Homo sapiens: one gene and its partner. The protein of the gene in region 1 interacts with the protein of each later gene in a biochemical or structural test. Each region holds a gene or a part of one and is shown in the gene's direction. Other genes may lie near its edges. The genes, in order: HRK and BCL2.

Evidence for each region.
Region 2: the proteins of HRK (region 1) and BCL2 interact in a test that uses a peptide from one of them, tested with the Homo sapiens proteins (one study listed by BioGRID).

Annotation. Positions count from the first base shown.
Region 1 is NC_000012.12:116,861,329-116,865,157, reverse strand, and holds part of HRK (activator of apoptosis harakiri), read left to right. Parts: intron 1-3,691; 3' UTR 3,692-3,829. UniProt on the Homo sapiens protein: Promotes apoptosis.
Region 2 is NC_000018.10:63,122,685-63,125,475, reverse strand, and holds the end of BCL2 (apoptosis regulator Bcl-2), read left to right. Parts: 3' UTR 1-2,130; downstream 2,131-2,791. UniProt on the Homo sapiens protein: Suppresses apoptosis in a variety of cell systems including factor-dependent lymphohematopoietic and neural cells. Regulates cell death by controlling the mitochondrial membrane permeability. Appears to function in a feedback loop system with caspases.

The DNA of each region.
Region 1 (3,829 bases):
TAATGCTGCACTGGGGTTTACGGTTTTCAGCTTTCACCTTCCATACCCAAAGCGGCACAACATCACTGCAGCCCACGGAGGCAGGACCTTGTGGGTTCAAGTTCTCCCTCTCTGCCCGCCTCCCCCCTCACACGGTGGATGAAAAATGGAAACAGGGACATTTTTTCAAAGGTATTTCATGAATCACTTCAGCCACGAGTTTTGGCTGTGAGTTAGCATCTGAGAAAATTCTTTACGAGCCAAGTTTAAGGGAACACATCCCAAGGGTGGGGCAGTGGCTCACAGGGGTTGATGGACTTGATGTTTTAAAAATAGTTTTAAATTGCACGATTACTACTGCTGCTTGGAAAAAAGAAAGAAAGAAACCCTATATATATAAAATATAGCCCATAGCAGCCTCAAACTCCTGGGCTTATGCAATCCTCTCTCCTCAGTCTCCTGAAGTGCTGGGATTACAGGCGTGAGCCATAGCACCTGGCCTCAATTCCTACAACTTTCTGATACAGTTCCCTGCTCATCACGCTTCCCTGTTTGTGCCATGCTTATCACTGTCCTTGGTCTTGTTTGGGCCCTTCCCCCACCTAAGCCACGCTTCCTTTTTCCAAATATGGAAAAAATATGTGTGTGTGTTCTAGGTCCTGATCAAATCCTGGGTCCGCGCTGAAGCTTCCCTGGTAATTGTAACCCCATTCTGACTTCTAGGCTATTGGTTCACCTCCAGATATTGGTCATTTACAGTACTGGTCTCTGGCATGGCATATCCTTCCAGTAAGCCTGGAGGCAAATTTAAAGCAGGCACCTGGCCTTATCTGGTGCGGATAACCATGCTTAGCACGATGTCCACACACTCAATAGCATAATAGGTACTTAATAAGTGTTCCTGTCTCTCCTTCCATCCCACCTGTGCTTAAGGCAGCATAATTATTTTAGGCTAATGCTGCAGGGTTACACTGACTTTCATTCTGTAGGTTTATGGCTAGACACCAACAGAGATGTTTAGGGGTTACAAAAGCTGGTTTCATAAACTAAATTTAGAATGTATTTATCAATTGAGTTGATTGATGACTAATTCCATATTCTATGAAAATATATGGTGGCTACATAACAATGCAGAGTTCCTACTGTGTTTGTGCCCTCGTGAGATAGAAGGGGAATTGGCCTGGTGTGGTGGCGCACACCTGTAATCCTAGCACTTTGGGAGGCCAATGCGGGACGATTGCTTGAGGCCAGGAGTTTGAGACCAGCCTAGGCAACATAGAAAGACCCTGTCTCTAAAAGAAAAAATAAAAATAATAAATTAGCCAGATGTGGTGGTGCATGCCGATAGTCCCAGCTAGAGGCTGAGGTGGGAGGATCGCTTGAGCTCAGGAGGTCGAGGGTGCAGTGAGCTATGATGGCGCCACTGCACTCCTGCCTGGGTGGCAGAGCGAGACCCAGTTTCTTTAAAAAAAAAAAAAAAAGCAAAAGGTTTGAAGTCACTGATTTGGATCCTTGTGACTGTCAGCTGACATAGACTATGGGGTCCATGTGTTTATGACTCATATCTTTCATGCAGTCAGATGTATCCATTAGGGCCCGAGTAAGAGGCAGAAAGTGTTTCCAAACTCAGTAATCAGAGGAGAATTTAGGACAGCTTCAACAGCAAAGGCGTGGGCAGGGTTTGGGAAACCAGCGAGAGTGAATGCAGTACCCAGGCTTGGCCATAGAGGGGAGCTATTCCCACCCTGGCCTGAAGGTGCCAGGGTAAGGAATGGGACCTGGAGTCTCCAGGAGGGTGTCACTGTACCAGAGTCCAGACAGCGGCTGTGGCCAACCTCTGACCAGTGGGAGGGGAGCTGGGGAACAAACACCTGATCTTACTTTCCCATTAGTGCCTCCTGTTGGCCAAACCCAGAAGGAAGCCAGAAGTCAAGGGTACCAGCTGCTACAGTTCATGCAAGTCAACATCTCAGACTTTTTCAAACCCAGAAGCCATAAAGTGATCTCCCTTCCACTTTCTCTCCTATATCACTTGGTGTGTATTACCCACATGCTCGTTCATATGCCACCTGCTTTAGAATAACGGGTGATACGTTCTTATCTCCCCCGCTAACTTATAGCCACCTTATCTGTCCTTTTAAGTCTGGGCACGGTGGCTCATGCCTGTAATCACAGCACTTTGGGAGGCTGAGGTGGGTGGATCACTTGAAGATAGGAGTTCAAGACCAGTCTGGCCAACATGGCAAAACTCAGTCTCTACTAAAAATACAAAAATTTAGCCGGGCATGATGGCATGCACCTGTAGTCCCAGCTACTTGGGAGGCTGAGGCAGGAGGCAGAGGTTGCTTGAACCCAGGAGGCAGAGGTTGCAGTGAGCTGAGATCGTACCACTGCACTCCAGCCTGGGCAACAGAACGAGACCTTGTCTCAAAAACAAACAAACAAACAAACAAACAAACAAACAAACAAAAAACCCTACCTTTTTAAGGTGTACAAGTCAATGATGAGGAGTATACATAGAATTTTGCAGCCATCTTCACAGTCAACTTTGGAAAATTTTCGTTTCCCTGAAAGAAACCCCATGCGCATGAGTATCACTCCCCAATTCCTCCTATCCGCCCCGGCCCTAGGCAACCACCATTCTCCTTTCTGTCCCAGAAGATCTGCCTGTTGTGGACATTTCATATAAATGGAATCACACAATATGTGTCCTTTTGTGTCTGGCTTCTTTGACTTAGCATGATGCCTTCAAGGTTCATCCATCTTCACGTATCAATACTTCATTCCTTTTTGATGGCTGACTAATAGTCCATTGTATGGAAAGACCACATTTTGTTTATTCATCAGTTGATGGACATTTGGGTTGTTTCCGTATTTTGCTATTATGGATAATTCTGCCATGAGCATTTGTGCACACATTTTGTGCATTCTGTGGTGGATGCTCCTGGGTATGGGCTGTTTTTTCTGCCCTGCCTAGGATGCCTCATTTTCTTATCCTGGTTAGTTTCCTGGCACTCTTCAATAGTCAGCAGGGGCCTGCCACTCTCTCTGAGGAGTCTGCTTTGTCTCCCTTATGAGCTGCCTCCCCTGGGCTCCTATAGACCACGTTTCCCCAGACTGCATGTGCTCTTTACATGGGACTGTCATTATCCACTTCTTCCCATCTCCCTGTTGGTTCTGAGCCCCTCAAGGGGCAAGAATTACGTCATTGAACCTGTAGCCCCTAGTATGGCACTTGGCATACTTGGGAATAAGTGAATGGATGAATGAACGAACAAACAAACAAAAGAGAACAGAGACTGCCCTACAACTCTCTCTTGAATCTGGGTCTATGAAATGAATCGAGGAAGGTCCTGTTCTGAATTTGGAGAAGCAAAAAGTTCATGTGTCTCTAGATTCTTCTTTTTAAAAACATCTCTGAAGATGCCTATGTAAATATCTAGGTCTAAAAGCAGAGAGGGGAGTGTGTGTGCACGCACAAATGTCTATTTGGGGAAGGCTGCTACATAGACAGAGATTCTGGTAAGGGGAAGAGTGCCAAGACTAGCTTTTGAGGCATCCTTCCTCCAAAACCAGAGCTTTGCATCCAGTAGCTCTCCCCTCCCTCCTCCCCCTCCCGACATCCGGGGCTGAGCGTGCAGAGGCCCACTGCACTGACGTCACCCCCAGCAGCTGTCTGCACTGACCAAAATACCAATCTTTATTTCTGCAGGTTGGTGAAAACCCTGTGTCCTTGGAGAAAGCTGGTTCCCGTTTTCCAGAGGGGGAGCCCAGAGCTTGAAAGGCCGCGGTTGGCACTTCGAGAAGGAAGTGGAGAGTAAAGACAGCGCCTGGAGCGATCGTAGAAACA
Region 2 (2,791 bases), on another chromosome or scaffold:
CCCCAAAAGGAGAAGAACATCTGAGAACCTCCTCGGCCCTCCCAGTCCCTCGCTGCACAAATACTCCGCAAGAGAGGCCAGAATGACAGCTGACAGGGTCTATGGCCATCGGGTCGTCTCCGAAGATTTGGCAGGGGCAGAAAACTCTGGCAGGCTTAAGATTTGGAATAAAGTCACAGAATTAAGGAAGCACCTCAATTTAGTTCAAACAAGACGCCAACATTCTCTCCACAGCTCACTTACCTCTCTGTGTTCAGATGTGGCCTTCCATTTATATGTGATCTTTGTTTTATTAGTAAATGCTTATCATCTAAAGATGTAGCTCTGGCCCAGTGGGAAAAATTAGGAAGTGATTATAAATCGAGAGGAGTTATAATAATCAAGATTAAATGTAAATAATCAGGGCAATCCCAACACATGTCTAGCTTTCACCTCCAGGATCTATTGAGTGAACAGAATTGCAAATAGTCTCTATTTGTAATTGAACTTATCCTAAAACAAATAGTTTATAAATGTGAACTTAAACTCTAATTAATTCCAACTGTACTTTTAAGGCAGTGGCTGTTTTTAGACTTTCTTATCACTTATAGTTAGTAATGTACACCTACTCTATCAGAGAAAAACAGGAAAGGCTCGAAATACAAGCCATTCTAAGGAAATTAGGGAGTCAGTTGAAATTCTATTCTGATCTTATTCTGTGGTGTCTTTTGCAGCCCAGACAAATGTGGTTACACACTTTTTAAGAAATACAATTCTACATTGTCAAGCTTATGAAGGTTCCAATCAGATCTTTATTGTTATTCAATTTGGATCTTTCAGGGATTTTTTTTTTAAATTATTATGGGACAAAGGACATTTGTTGGAGGGGTGGGAGGGAGGAAGAATTTTTAAATGTAAAACATTCCCAAGTTTGGATCAGGGAGTTGGAAGTTTTCAGAATAACCAGAACTAAGGGTATGAAGGACCTGTATTGGGGTCGATGTGATGCCTCTGCGAAGAACCTTGTGTGACAAATGAGAAACATTTTGAAGTTTGTGGTACGACCTTTAGATTCCAGAGACATCAGCATGGCTCAAAGTGCAGCTCCGTTTGGCAGTGCAATGGTATAAATTTCAAGCTGGATATGTCTAATGGGTATTTAAACAATAAATGTGCAGTTTTAACTAACAGGATATTTAATGACAACCTTCTGGTTGGTAGGGACATCTGTTTCTAAATGTTTATTATGTACAATACAGAAAAAAATTTTATAAAATTAAGCAATGTGAAACTGAATTGGAGAGTGATAATACAAGTCCTTTAGTCTTACCCAGTGAATCATTCTGTTCCATGTCTTTGGACAACCATGACCTTGGACAATCATGAAATATGCATCTCACTGGATGCAAAGAAAATCAGATGGAGCATGAATGGTACTGTACCGGTTCATCTGGACTGCCCCAGAAAAATAACTTCAAGCAAACATCCTATCAACAACAAGGTTGTTCTGCATACCAAGCTGAGCACAGAAGATGGGAACACTGGTGGAGGATGGAAAGGCTCGCTCAATCAAGAAAATTCTGAGACTATTAATAAATAAGACTGTAGTGTAGATACTGAGTAAATCCATGCACCTAAACCTTTTGGAAAATCTGCCGTGGGCCCTCCAGATAGCTCATTTCATTAAGTTTTTCCCTCCAAGGTAGAATTTGCAAGAGTGACAGTGGATTGCATTTCTTTTGGGGAAGCTTTCTTTTGGTGGTTTTGTTTATTATACCTTCTTAAGTTTTCAACCAAGGTTTGCTTTTGTTTTGAGTTACTGGGGTTATTTTTGTTTTAAATAAAAATAAGTGTACAATAAGTGTTTTTGTATTGAAAGCTTTTGTTATCAAGATTTTCATACTTTTACCTTCCATGGCTCTTTTTAAGATTGATACTTTTAAGAGGTGGCTGATATTCTGCAACACTGTACACATAAAAAATACGGTAAGGATACTTTACATGGTTAAGGTAAAGTAAGTCTCCAGTTGGCCACCATTAGCTATAATGGCACTTTGTTTGTGTTGTTGGAAAAAGTCACATTGCCATTAAACTTTCCTTGTCTGTCTAGTTAATATTGTGAAGAAAAATAAAGTACAGTGTGAGATACTGGTTGTGCCTGGAATTGTTTATAATGTGTTAACATGATTTTGCCCTGCCATTCATCATCATTACACAAGACTTTGAAAAGCCTTCTTAACAAGCCAGTAAAATCACCAGGACCCTACTCTAATGAAGCCCTCAGGGACCAGGCTAAGGGATTGCCTTACAGGTGAAACCACCTTAGAAGGAGACTCTTGTTTCTTGGTAATAACCCTCCTGGTTAGGTACAAGATAGACCAGTCTTGAGTTCTACTCCCTGGGAGAGCTACTGTTGCTGTTGAGTGTGTTCTTCCATATAGACCAGAGATCCCAGCCTCTGCATTTTATAAGATGAAATGTGTATGAAAAAGAGGGAAATAAGCTGAAAGTTCTGTTTTGAAGTCAACATTTTTAGATGGAACCAAAGCAGCTACTTGCTTTGGAGCAGGTGAACCCTAAATGGCAAGGGATCTGATGTTTCCCACTGGGTTCAGGTCCTGATACCCTAATCCTCAACCCTTCAAGTCACATCACTTAGACTCAATTAAAAGGACTCTGATAGTAGCATTCATCTGTTGAGCACCTGCTGGATACAACACTGTATGCATACTACCTTTTGCTCTCAAACCTTTCAAGGTAGGTATTGGCCTCTTGTATTTTGTAGGAGATAACTGAGACTCAAGACGTTGAA